Homo sapiens: one gene and its partner. The protein of the gene in region 1 interacts with the protein of each later gene in a biochemical or structural test. Each region holds a gene or a part of one and is shown in the gene's direction. Other genes may lie near its edges.

Region 1 (7,039 bases):
CTCTCCATGGTGGTGCCTGGCTGCTGCGACTCTAGGGGTCCTTTGCCTGGGATTAGTAGTGACCATTATGGTGCTGGGCATGCAATGTAAGTGCTAAAATACGGAACTGATGTTTATTGGGGCAGGGGTGTTGGAAATGAGGTTAATAAATATGGTTTATAAGTTTCTTTCATAACAACTACAAACAGCCTTGATATAGATTCATTTTAGGCAAAATGTTTTTAAGAGTGACCATGAAAATAAAGGGGTATATTGTTCATCTTCCAATGGATAGAGCCATGAAATAAAAATTACAATTGGTAGGCATTTTTTTGTTTGTTTGTTTTGTTTTGTTTTGTTTCTTTTGTTTTCATAACTTCATGGATAGGCCGGGTGCGGTGGCTCACACCTGTAATCCCAGCACTTTGGGAGGCCAAGGTGGGTGGACCACCTGAGGTCAGGAGTTCAAGACCAGCCTGGCCAACATGGTGAAACCCCATCTCTACTAAAAATACAAAAAGTAGCCGGGTGTGGTGGCACATGCTTGTAATCCCAGCTACTCAGGAGGCTGAGGTAGGAGAATAGCTTGAACCGGGGAGGTGGAATTTGCAGTGAGCTGAGACTGCACCATTGCACTCCAGCCTGGGCAACAGAGCGAGACTCCATTTCAAACAAAACAAACAAACAAAAAACCAACCTCATGGATAGAGCCTATTTAAATTCTAGAATGATGGAGAAGATAATAACTTAAAGTTACTAATATCCAAGATCATCTGAGAGGCCCAAAAGTAAAAGAAATTTTATTTAGCTTGCTGAGTTTTGATAGAGATAATTAAATACCATTTTAATGTTAAGAACCAGAAACACAATCTTAATAAATAAAACATTTAAAATAAAATATATTTCACATTTATAATAAGAGCATTTAGAAAAGAGAAGATATTGAGGGAAAAAAAGAAGTGAAAAGATGGCCCAGAGTGGCCAAGAAGGAAAGAAAATGGTGCCCAACGTTCACCTGAACTGCCTGTGAATTTAGGTTGTAGAACTGAGTTGTTTAGGCTACCCAGGATCCAGGTTATTATGGCCATTGAAGTGCTATTTGCTTCCTAACTGTTGTTCAAGCTCACAAACTATTTTATTTTAAATTTGTAAATACTTAGGGCCTTTCCTAGTGACAAGGAGAAGTGCCCTTGACTTAGTGGTGGTGACCAGAAAAATCTTTTGAGCCTTTGATCATCTTATAACAGGATCAAAGCTGCCTTCAAACCAAGCGGTCTGCTTTGTATTGCACCATCAAAATTCAGGAACTGAGACATTTGACCCTTAACATGTTATCGCCTGCTTGATTTCACAACCTTCACTTTATCTTCACCCTTCCTAAAATGTACCGTGGCCAAGGGGAAAAAAAAAAGAAAAGAAAAAATTCTTGGAGACTCTTGTGACACAGTGTGCGTGGCTGTCTCAAAAAAGGGGTGTATGTCACAGTTCTTAAAATTAGGAAGTCTGGAAGAGTAGACAGAATGGGAGGAGACACAGCAGAGGAATTGAGACATAAATAGAGTAAATCGCTAATGACATTTCCTACTAATAGTCACTGAGTCTGGTGGGTGTCTGTTTCAGGTTTTCCTTATTTTATTTATTCTAATGCTGTACTGGTTATCTTGTGATTACTTTTCATTTGTAACTCAATAAAAAAAAATCTTGGGTTTTTTTTGTTGTTGTTGTTGTTTTTTATTTTTTTTGAGACAGTCCCCCTCTGTCGCCAGGCTGGAGTGCAGTGGCACTGTGATTCCCCTGCCTCAGCCTCCTGAGTAGTTGGGACTACAGGCGCGTGCCACCACCCTCAGCTAATTTCTTTGGTATTTTTAGTAGAGATGGGGTTTCACCATGTTGGCCAGGATGGTCTCTATCTCTTGACCTCGTGATCTGCCTGCCTCGGCCTCCCAAAGTGCTGGGATTACAGACCTGAGCCACCGTGCCTGGCCAAAATCTTGGTAATTTTTAAAAAAATTACAAGTGTTTGCAATGTTCCTGACATTAAACAAAATACTGCAGGAATATTCAAGAACCTCCAAATCTGTAACTTCTGAGTAAATCTGGGTCATTTTTCAGCAGCTTATCTATTGTCAAAATAGATTTAATTCTGTTTTGATTTCCTCAAAAAGTCCCTGGAGGGATTTTTATTTGGATTAGAACTAGAGTCTTAATGCAACTGTGATTCAGTATCCCAGGTGTCTGACCTCCTAACACAAGAGCAAGCAAACCTAACTCACCAGAAAAAGAAACTGGAGGGACAGATCTCAGCCCGGCAACAAGCAGAAGAAGCTTCACAGGAGTCAGAAAACGAACTCAAGGAAATGATAGAAACCCTTGCTCGGAAGCTGAATGAGAAATCCAAAGAGCAAATGGAACTTCACCACCAGAATCTGAATCTCCAAGAAACACTGAAGAGAGTAGCAAATTGTTCAGGTATTGGGAGAAGGGTGGGTAAGGAGACATAGTGGAAGCTTTCTGTCCAATCATAACTATTTTTTGGAAACAATTCTGGGCTCAAAATTGGTCTATTGTTATGCATATCATTATTCATTCATAATGTTCTATACAAGAAGTTCTCAATTTCTTTTTCTTTTTCTTTCTTTTTCTTTTTTTTTTTTAGATGGAGTTTCGCTCTTTTGCCCAGGCTGGAGTGAAGTGGTGTGATCTCTGCTCACTGCAACCTCCACCCCCTGGGTTCAAGTGATTCTCTTGCCTCAGCCTCCCAAGTCGTTGGGACTACAGGCTCCCATCACCACGCCCAGCTAATTTTTGTATTTTCAGTAGAGACAGGGTTTCACCATGTTGGCTAGGCTGGTCGCGAACTCCTGACCTCAGGTGATCCACCCATCTTGGCCTCCCAAAGTGCTAGGATTACAGGCATGAGCCACCGCTCTCGGTCAATTTTTTATTTATTTTATTATTATTTTTTAATTTTAGACGGAGTCTTGCTCTGTCACCCAGGCTGGAAAGCAGTGGTGTGATCTCAGTTCAATAAGCTTCTGCTTCTTGGGTTCAAGCAGTTCTCCTGCCTCAGCCTCCCAAAGTGCTTGGGATTACAAACATGAGCCACCATGCCCAACTAATTTTTGTACTTTTAGTAGAGACAGGGTTTTGCCATATTGAACAGGCTGGTCTCAAACTCCTCACCTCAAGTCATCCGCCTGCCTCAGCCTCCCAAAGTGCTGGGATTACAGGTGTGAGCCACCGCACCCGGCAAGAAGTTCTAAATTTTTAATCAGAACCACCCTATGCTGTGTCAAATCCTTGAAAAATCTGATTTAATTAAGCATACCTTTTGGTGGATTTAAGTTTTCCTTCTTTATAAGAGCCTCTTCTTTTTAAAATTTTAGTTTTGAGATTTTTCTTTCTTTTTTTTTATTTTTTGAGACAGTCTCGCTGTGTCACACCCAGGCTGGAATGCAGTGGTGTGATCTCAGCTCACTGCAACCTCCACCTCCTGGGTTCAAGTGATTCTCTTGCCTCAGCCTCCCTAGTAGCAGTTTTGACATTTTTCTTGAAGAATTCTGCCACCCCCACCCCATTCCATAGATCCTTATCTCTTTCCATTCCAATGCATTTTAATCACTGTATTTCTTTTTCTAAGGGATCTTTTTGTCCTTGCAACTGTCTACCCCTAACTCTACATTAGCTCACTCTGTGGCATTATTTCTTAAAGTGTACTACATCAACTTATTTTATTTGATTTCAATTTTTGGAGATGGAGTCTCGCTCTGTCGCCCAGGCTGGAATGCAGTGGCCTGATCTCGGCTCACTGCCACCTCCGCCTCCAGGGTTCAAGCAATTCTCATGTCTCAGACTCCCAAGTAGCTGGGATTACAGGCACCCACCACCACGCCCGGCCAATTTTCTTTTTTTTTTTTTGAGAGGGAGTCTCGCTCTGTCCCCCAGGCTGGAGGGCAGTGGCACATTCTCGGCTCACTGCAACTTCCGCCTCCCGGGTTCGAGGGATTCTCCTGCCTCAGCCTCCCGAATAGTTGGGATTAGAGGCACCCGCCACCACACCTGGCTAATTTTTGTATTTTTAGTAGAGATGGTGTTTCACCAAGTTGGCCAGGCTGGTTTTGAACTCCTGACCTCGGGTGATCCGCCCGCCTCGGCCTCCCAAAGTGCTGGGATTACAGGTGTGAGCCACTGTGCCGGGCCCATCAATTTAAATAGAGCCAATGGAGGTAGACTGGCTTGCAAGCCTTACGCAGATACTTCAGATTAGACAAAAATATGAGGAGTCCAAGAAGTCTATTTATATAAGAAGAAATGAGTTAATTTTAGCCGTCTAAAGGGACTCAGAATCCAGAGGCAGGCAGAAATAGTAGCATCTATAAGAAGACTATGATGTGAACTCTGATATTGTTACAGAAGCTACTGTATTATTTGGTCTTTCTGCAGTATGTCATTACATCAGGTATATGGTTTTAGGCATAGGGAGAGTTAAAAGGTGTGAGAGAGAGTCATTCAGAGGTACTTTGTTTCCTTGGAGGTGCGTAAATTAGTGCCCTATTGTCAGGATTAGAGAAAAACTTCCTCTAATAAACAGAGATCTCTCTAGCTTCTTGCTTGCACAATTTACTTAATCTCAACCACATAATTTATTTGAATAAAGAGCATATAATAATAGTTCACAGATACCTAAGCTTTTCCTTGATAGGTGGAACACTGAGACCCGGATAAAGTGAAATGATAATAAAAAGTAATTTTGTGTAAGGTTTTGCAGTTTGTAAATCCCTTCACTATTTAGAGGTCATTTACATTTTCAAAATTAGCAGAAATTTTTGAACAAAATAATTTTTAGCAAGTGTCAAACATTTTTAATCTCTTTAAAGTTGGAGCTTGCAAGGAAATGAATATACCACCTTCAAGAAGGCTTAAAGGGAGAAAGTTTATCTATTAAGGATAGGAATGTTTATAAAAGCGGACATAACCACGTACTAACCAATGGTTTATATCACAGGCAAGGCCAGAAGAGAATTTTGTCTTTATCAGTTGTATGGGATTAAATCTACATCAGGACCATTCAGAACTATCTCCCAGAGATGCCCTGGATGAACAACTAATAAAAAACAATAAGTGATATGTCTGATGCTGGCAGATATACCAAGTAACATGTTCCATTCCTTGACAGTGTCAGATAAAGGCTAATTAGTAGAGATAGCAAATAAAGTTTTGCCTTTCATCAAAGAGCATTTTTTTTTTTTTGAGACGGAGTCTCGCTCTGTCACCCAGGCTAGAGTGCAGTGGTGCGATCTAGGCTCACTGCAACCTCCGCCTCCCGGAGTCAAGCAATTCTCCTGCCTCAGCCTCCTGAGTAGCTGGGATTACAGGCGCCTGCCACCACGCCCAGCTAATTTTTGTATTTTTAGTAGAGACGGGGTTTCACCATGTTGGTCAGGCTGGTCTCGAACCCCTGATCTCGTGATCCACCCACCTTGGCCTCCTAAAGTGCTAGGATTACAGGTGTGAGCCACCAGGCCCGGCCCACCAAAGAGCTTTGAGAAGTCTTTAAAAAGTAATACTAAAATACCACATACAGAAAAAAAAAAAAAGCCAAGTTTTTCCAGTTTGAGGCAAGTTTTATCTTTTTTACTAAAAAGTCTGTGGTCTTCAATGTATATATGAGGAGGGAGAGATGCTGAGAGGTTATTATATGTTTGCTTTAGGCCAACGAGCTAGTGAGATGCAGGGCCTTTGCAGGAATAGACTTCACATTTAGCAATGGAATTTGTGGTGATTCTCAAACTTTACTGTATGTAAATAGATTGTTAAAAGTGGCAGATTACAGATTTACCTCAAGATTCTGTATCAAAATGTCTCGAGAGCAGCACCGAGAAACACTTCCTCAAATGGTTTTAACTTAGAAGTTTGAAAGGTAGTATGTTATAGTGGTGAAACACCCAGACTCTAGAGTTACATTATCTAGGTCCAGATTCTTCTCTATTTGTCAAATGAAGAAAATGACTGGAACCTATCTCACAGAGATACTGTGAGGATTAAATGAGTTAATACCTGTACAGTACTTCCAACAGTTTCTGGCACATAGTGAGTGATATTTGTGTTTGTTAAATTATATAAAAAATAAACATAGTAAGTGATATTTGTATTGTTATATAATTTAACAAACACAAATATCACTTACTCTGTTTATTTTTGTGTACACACACACACACACACACAAAGAAATACAGTAAGTTTAAATACTACATTTTGTAATGTGTCCTTCTTACTTTGTCATAACTGGGAAAACTTGCCCAGACTGTCTTTTTAGTCCACAAAAAACTTATATACATCTAAATATATTTTTTGAGACAGAGTCTTCCTCTGTCATCCAGGTTAGAGTGCAGTGGCATGATCTCAGCTCACTGCAACCTCCACCTCCTAGGTTCAAGTGATCCTTCCACCTCAGTCTCCTAAGTAGCTGAGACTACAGGCGCACACCACCACACCCAGTGAATTTTTGTGTTTTTTGTAGAAATGGGGTTTCGCCATGTTGCACAGGCTGGTCTGGAACTCCTGGCCTCAAGCGATCCACCCACCTCAGCCTCCCAAAGTGGTGGGATTATAGGCATGAGCCACCACCCCCAGCCAAAAACGTACATATATTTATATTTACATAATATGATGGGGTTAGGCAAACTAAGAAGTAAGAAGCTTGCATTGACTGCTTTCAACTTGGTCTCTTTTTCTTTTCATAAGCATCAGTTTGGTGAAAAATCAACTTAGTGTTTTGTATGCTCTTTCTCATTCACTTTTTTCTGTTTTTCAGTCCCTCCTATTTTCTCCTCTCTGATAAAGCCTACTCTTATACATTTATTTAGTGGTTTTATGCCACAGTGAGAATGAAATTAAAATGCTGCCTTTCTCAAAGATTTTAATTTTTCACCTTTTGGTTGTAGTGTAGACCAGAGTACTTTGTTTCCCCTTAAGGAGATGGGAGAGATGATGATGATGATGGTGATGATAGTGATGATTTGAGGGTTCCTGAAAGCATCCATAAACATGTAGACATTGG
Region 2 (7,039 bases), on another chromosome or scaffold:
CACTTTTCTGTTTAATGCATTGTAACAGTGTTTTGATAAAGCTAGATATTTTAATTTGCCTATAAGAAACCTTTTCCTCCACCAAATCAGAAAGACTGCCATAGATTACTGGCAGTATAGCTAATTTTTATTGAATATTTAATATGGTGGGCATTGTGATAAGTTTTTTACATTTATTGTCCTCTTCAAGGCCCTCAGATAGTCATATCCCCATTTTATAGATGAAAAGAGTAGATCTAGAGGAGTAACTTATCCAAGGACCGCTAACAGAAACAGCTGAGATTTGAACCCAGGACAGGCTGCCCATCGTGGTCCATCCCTTAACTAATACTTATGCTGCTTTTCTTATTTACCAAACTTAAAGCGGTGTTGTGCTTTTAAATTTCTTTGGAACTCATGTCACTTGTTTTCTGTAATATCCTGTGTTTATCCCTTCCTTCCCCTAATCCTTTTTCCTTTTAAAAATCAGTATTAAGTCCATACATTCATTTTGTTTGAATGTTAGGTAGTGTTAGGGACACTAAGTGATACTGTTGGATGTCCTTAGAACTAATACAGATAGTATAGCGTAATGGTTACAAGCACTAGGCATTGAGTCTAGACTGCTTGTGTTTGTTCAGTACTGACTTCACCACTTAACTACGCTGTTTGGCCAAATGACTTAACCTCTTGGCTTCAGTTTCTCCATCTGAAGATTGAATGAGTTAATATGTAAAGTTCTAAGACCACTGCCTGGCATATGTTAAGTGATTGATAAATGTTAGCAATTTTTATCAACCCCTCATCAGGAATGTACATACATAACATTGATGCCTCATCACACATTCATTTTAGATAGAAAATACTCACGTAAAATTAAATTTATGCTTTTTGGATTTCCTGTAAAACTTTGATATTCTACAGTCCCGGCTATTATATTAATAAAAGAAAAAAGCAAGCATACATGTTTTTATTTTGTGCCCCTGGTGACAACCTGAATGGAAAAGACACTTTATGGACTGTCTTCTCATGAGTGTTTCCCTCTTCATACCCACACCCCACTGCAAAAATTATAAGAGTCTTTCTTAAGTATCTTTGTCATTGAAAAATTAGGACTTTTTTCTACTGTGAAGGTAACTTTTTTTTTTTTTTAATAATTCTAGGTGGTTTCTCAGTATTCAAGTCTGCTTTCTCCAATGAGTGTAAATGCAGTGATGAAAGTGATTGACCCAGCCACAGCCACCAGTGTAGATCTTAGAGATATTAAAATAGTTAAGAAGCTTGGGTAAGCATCTCTAATTACAACTTGAATAAAAATTTGAAAATGAGCATCAGATTGCCAAAAATAAATAAAAACACCTAGATGAAAGTCACAAAGCTCTCTTTTCTCTTTTTGGTTTTGTTTTCGTGAGAATTTGTATTAGTATGGGCATCTGGAGATTTTGTTTATGTTACCTTATGATAGTAAGGCAGCAGTGGATCAAAGAGATCCAGGAGTGGGGCAATAATAAATGTGAGGCTGAATCATATTTTATTGGACTGATGACTTTTAATCTGTTCATCTATTAAACGTACAGATGTCCACTCCCTCTTAACTACCCCTCTTTGTTTTCTTTTATCCTTAGTGGGACAATTGATGACTGTGAGTTGGTGGAAGGGCTGGTTCTCACCCAAAAAGTGTCAAATTCTGGCATAACCAGAGTTGAAAAGGCCAAGATTGGGCTTATTCAGTTTTGCTTATCTGCTCCCAAAACAGACGTAAGTAGAATCCAAATGAAATTGGTTCTCTGTGTTTAACTTTTTAATAACTCAGGCATTTCTTTATTAAAAATAGAAAATACTACTAGTGATTTAAAGCAGATCTCAAAAGACTTACTAGAATTGAGACAAAAATAGTAATTGTTGGTGCCACAAGTGACAAGTCTGTATCCTCAGTTGGGATATTGAAATTGAGAGCTAGCCATTTGCAACGATGCCTGTAGTCCCAGCTCCTTGGGAAATTGAAGCAGAAAAATTGCTTGAACCTAGGAGTTTGAGGTTGCAGGGTGCTATTCCATGACCTGTGAATAGTCCCTGCACTCCACTCCAGCCTGGGCAACATAGTGGGACCCCATCTTTTCACTGTTGCTGTTAATTTACAAATTCACACAGATTAGAGAGGGACCCTATCTTTTGAAAACAACTAGGGTAACCATTTTATATTTTTTGGTTATAAAAAATTTACTTGCAAAATGTAAGATACCAGTGTACTTAGTTGAAAATAAAAGACTCAAGTTTGGGATGTGTATCTTAATCCAGACTCTTTTCTATGCATGTCTATATAATTTATTACTTGATATAGTTTTGGTTGAATTTATACAACACATAGTATTTTCGCTTAAAATTCTACTTTTAAACTTAAAATATCTTACAATGCAAATTATGATGTTCTTTTTCTGAACAGATGGATAATCAAATAGTGGTTTCTGACTATGCCCAGATGGACCGAGTGCTGCGAGAAGAGAGAGCCTATATTTTAAATTTAGTGAAGCAAATTAAAAAAACAGGATGTAATGTCCTTCTCATACAGAAATCTATTCTAAGGTGTGGGGCTATTTATTTTGTTCATCCCTTAATGATAATTTTGGATCTCCACTAGCAGTTTATTTTTTCTGATAAAATATATGATTTAAGCACTTACTCTAAGTTCGTATTTCTTAACAGACAACTCTTAGGTGAAACGAAATGGAGAATTTTTATTTTAAAAGCACAGGTAAAATGTTAGGCCTCAATATTGTACCATCATTTGCTCAGACCAAGGGAAAAAATGGTATAAGTTCAGTTAAGATGTCTAGGAAAAGCATTTTAAACAAATATATGACTTGTAAATTCAAAACAATAAAGGTGTAATTTTCTTTTACAAAAAAAAGTAGGTTTTTTAAAATAGCCAACTAACTGCCAGAATGTTGTGTTTTGGCCTTTTAAAAAACTTATTTCTTCGATTATTGGCTTCAGGGTGGAGCCCTTAAGGAACAGGGCCAAGAAAGCATGCAGTTTTTAGAGTCTAAACCACACTTCTAATAGCAATTTTTTTTAATTTTTTTTTTTTTTTTTTTGAGACAGAGTCTCACTCTGTCATCCAGGCTGGAGTGCAGTGGTGCAATCTCGGCTCACTGCAACCTCCGCCTCCTGGGTTCAACAAGTGATTCTACTGCCTCAGCCTCCCGAGTAGCTGGGACTGCAGGCACGTGCCACCACACCTGGCTAATTTTTTGTATTTTTTGAGTAGAGATGGGGTTTTACCATGTTAGCCAGGATGGTCTCGATCTCCTGACCTCATGATCCACCCGCCTCAGCCTCCCAAAGTGCTGGGATTACAGGCATGAGCCACCGCACCCAGCCTCTAAGAGCAATTTTTATAGAAACATTTGAGTTGGGTAAACCACCAGAAATCTGCATTTTTTTTTTTAGCAGTATCATTATTTTTCCTTGCAGTTACAAGCTGGAAAAGCATTATTATGTTTTGATAAAAAGTGCGTAATCTTCCTTTTTTTTTTGAAATGGAGTTTCGCTCTTGTTGCCCAGGCTGGAATCAATGGTGCGATCTCGGTTCACCACAACCCCCGCCTCCTGGGTTCACGCAAGTCTCCTGCCTCAGCCTCCCGAGTAGTTGGGATTACAGGCATGTGCCACCACACCCAGCTAATTTTGTGTTTTTAGTAGAGACGGGGTTTCTCTGTTAGTCAGGCTGGTCCTGAACTCCCAACCTCAGGTGATCCGCCAGCCTTGGCCTCCCAAAGTGCTGGGGTTACAGGCATGAGCCACCACGCCCGGCCCTATCTTCCCTTTTAAATGTAGGATATATAATCTTACCTAGACCAAGGTCCTAAACATCAAGCCTTGTTCTTTTAAAAGCCATGTTGCAGAATTAATTACCTAGTTAAAAGTGGAATTTATTTAAAGGTCTATGCAATTGCTTGCCTTGTCATTTAGAGGTACTTTTTGGGGGAATGCTCTGCATAGTCCATAGATGAAAAGAATTCTCTGAAGTTTGACAGATCACTTTTTTCCTTCTTTTTTTTTTTTTGGAGACACAGTCTCACTCTGTCACCCACGCTAGAGTACAATGGCGCAGTCTCAGCTCACTGCAACCTCTGCCTCCCAGGTTCAAGCAGTTTTCCTTCCTCAGCCTCCTGAAATAGTTGGGATTACAGTCACGTGCCACCACGCCTGGCTAATTTTTGTAGAAATGAGGTTTTATCATGTTGGTCAGGCTGGTCTTGCACTCCTGACCTCGTGGTCTGCCCCCCCTTGGCCTCCCAAAGTGCTGGGATTACAGATGTGAGCCACCGTGCCTGGCCAGTATTTTTTCCTAATAGACGCATTCCCATTTACTCCATTAATGTGCCAGAATGTACTGTGGATGTTCATTTTATATAGTCTTTGAAGACTCAGAAGACTTGGTTCTAATCCCAATCATATAATAGCTACTGACCTTGAGTAAATTGCCCCCCAAACTCAGTTTGCTTATCCGTATAATAGGGATAGTAGTAATATCTACCTTTCTAGTATCACAGAGTTGTTATTCACAGTTCATGGGGAAGTGTAAATTTGTGGAGTCTGAATTAATACTTCTAAATTCATGAAGTATTAATAAGGTTTCACTTCCCAAGATGTGCTCATTTGTTAAGAAAAATGAGGTCAGGCACAGTGGCTCATGCCTGTAATCCCAGCACTTTGTGGGGCCGAGGTGGGAGGATCACTTGAGCCCTGAGTTCAAGACCGGCCTGGGCAACATAGGGAGACCCTGTCTCTATTAAAAATAAATAAATGAGCCGGGTGCAGTGGCTCATGCCTGTAATCCCAGCACTTTAGGAAGCCAAGGCGGGTGGATCACCTGAAGTCAGGAGTTCGAGACCAGCGTGGCCAACATGGTGAAACCCCGTCTCTACTAAAAATACAAAAATTAGCCAGGTGTGGTGGCGGGAGCGTGTAGTCTCAGCCACTTGGGAGGCTGAGGCAGGAGAATCGCTTGAACCCAGGAGGTTGAGGTTGCAGTGAGCCAAGATCGTGCCATTGCACTCCAAGCCTGGGCAACAAGAGCGAAATTCCATCTCAAAAAAATAAAAATAAATAAATAAATGGGGAAAAAATAATGACCTAGTTATTTCGTGTGTTTTATAGTGTCATTGGGGACAGAGTACATTTTAATACTGGAATTGTACTAAAATTTCCAATAGAATTGGAAATCTTAATTTTGACCTTACGAACTTAGTAAACTAAAGCATTTTTCTTCAGAAATAATGATTGGCCATTTAAGAAACAGTAATTAAAACCTTAAAGGCATTTGAAGAGCAAAATTTTTTTAATCTAGCATTGACATAATCACTGATTTTGTATTTTAGAGATGCTCTTAGTGATCTTGCATTACACTTTCTGAATAAAATGAAGATCATGGTGATTAAGGATATTGAAAGAGAAGACATTGAATTCATTTGTAAGGTAAAACATTAACATCTGTATTTGTGGAAAATGTCTGATAATTAGATAAATGTCTTAATTTGTGGATTTGACTGTTTTTTCCAGACAATTGGAACCAAGCCAGTTGCTCATATTGACCAATTTACTGCTGACATGCTGGGTTCTGCTGAGTTAGCTGAGGAGGTCAATTTAAATGGTTCTGGCAAACTGCTCAAGGTAACAGTATTACACTTAAATTTTTATTTGCTTAGGTTTGGGTATGGGGTTTTAGGTTGTTTTTTTTCTTTTTTTGAGACGGAGTCTCACTCTGTCGCCCAGGTTGGAGTGCAGTGGCATGATCTTGGCTCACTACAAGCTCCGCCTCCCGGGTTCATGCCATTCTCCTGCCTCAGCCTCCCGGGAAGCTGGGACTACAGGCGCCTGCCACCACGCCCTGCTAATTTTTTGTATTTTTAGTAGAGACGGGGTTTCACTGTGTTAGTCAGGATGGTCTCGATCTCCTCACCTCGTTAGCCACCCGCCTCATCCTCCCAAAGTGTTGGGTTTACAGGCGTGAGCCGCCGTGCCCGGCCTGGGTGTGGGGTTTTTTTGACCCTTCAAATACTTAATTTGGAATTTGTTTACTGAAGATTACAGGCTGTGCCAGCCCTGGAAAAACAGTTACAATTGTTGTTCGTGGTTCTAACAAACTGGTGATTGAAGAAGCTGAGCGCTCCATTCATGATGCCCTATGTGTTATTCGTTGTTTAGTGAAGAAGAGGTAATGTCAGTGTTACATTATTAAGTAACATTTTGAACATTAAAACTATTATATTCTATTTTTTAAAGATATAAATAGCAAATTATTAAAAATAATTTTCTTTTGGATAAAATAAGCTAAAAATATATTTGTGAATTTCAGGGCTCTTATTGCAGGAGGTGGTGCTCCAGAAATAGAGTTGGCCCTACGATTAACTGAATATTCACGAACACTGAGTGGTATGGAATCCTACTGCGTTCGTGCTTTTGCAGATGCTATGGAGGTCATTCCATCTACACTAGCTGAAAATGCCGGCCTGAATCCCATTTCTACAGTAACAGAACTAAGAAACCGGCATGCCCAGGGAGAAAAAACTGCAGGCATTAATGTCCGAAAGGTAATCATTTAATCTCTAATGTAGAAAATATTGATTAATTTAAAATATTAAAAGCTTTGTAGTCATCTGTTGAATGGAAAGCTCTGTAATGAAAAGCATAATCTTGGATTTAAATATGAGGCCTGCTGCATGTTAATTAATCTATGCCATTGAGTGAGAAGGAAGATGGTGACACCTTAGGGGGAAGTATTATTTGTTCATTAAATCTGCCACTTACTGACTAGCTTTTAGCAAGTTACTTAGTCTGTTCCTCAGTTTCCTCAGGTGTAAAAACAGGGATGATTAATAGTTCCCTCATAGGCCTGTTGTGAGAATTAAATGCATTTCTAGTTAACAAGCTCTTAGATAGATGCTTGGCATATACTAAAGACTGTATAAAAAATCATTGCCCTAGTTAGCATGAGCTAATGTAGTTGTGTAAGGTAATCATATGGTAATAATATCACTTTTTATTAATGTTTTGT

What was found. The genes of interacting proteins can lie anywhere in the genome.
Region 2: the proteins of OLR1 (region 1) and CCT4 form a complex in vitro, tested with the Homo sapiens proteins (one study listed by IntAct).

What each region holds. Positions count from the first base shown.
Region 1 is NC_000012.12:10,162,121-10,169,159, reverse strand, and holds part of OLR1 (oxidized low-density lipoprotein receptor 1), read left to right. Parts: coding exon 1-86; intron 87-2,202; coding exon 2,203-2,448; intron 2,449-7,039. UniProt on the Homo sapiens protein: Receptor that mediates the recognition, internalization and degradation of oxidatively modified low density lipoprotein (oxLDL) by vascular endothelial cells.
Region 2 is NC_000002.12:61,871,618-61,878,656, reverse strand, and holds part of CCT4 (T-complex protein 1 subunit delta), read left to right. Parts: intron 1-1,142; coding exon 1,143-1,264; intron 1,265-1,604; coding exon 1,605-1,737; intron 1,738-2,422; coding exon 2,423-2,562; intron 2,563-5,363; coding exon 5,364-5,460; intron 5,461-5,544; coding exon 5,545-5,655; intron 5,656-6,068; coding exon 6,069-6,199; intron 6,200-6,340; coding exon 6,341-6,575; intron 6,576-7,039. UniProt on the Homo sapiens protein: Component of the chaperonin-containing T-complex (TRiC), a molecular chaperone complex that assists the folding of actin, tubulin and other proteins upon ATP hydrolysis.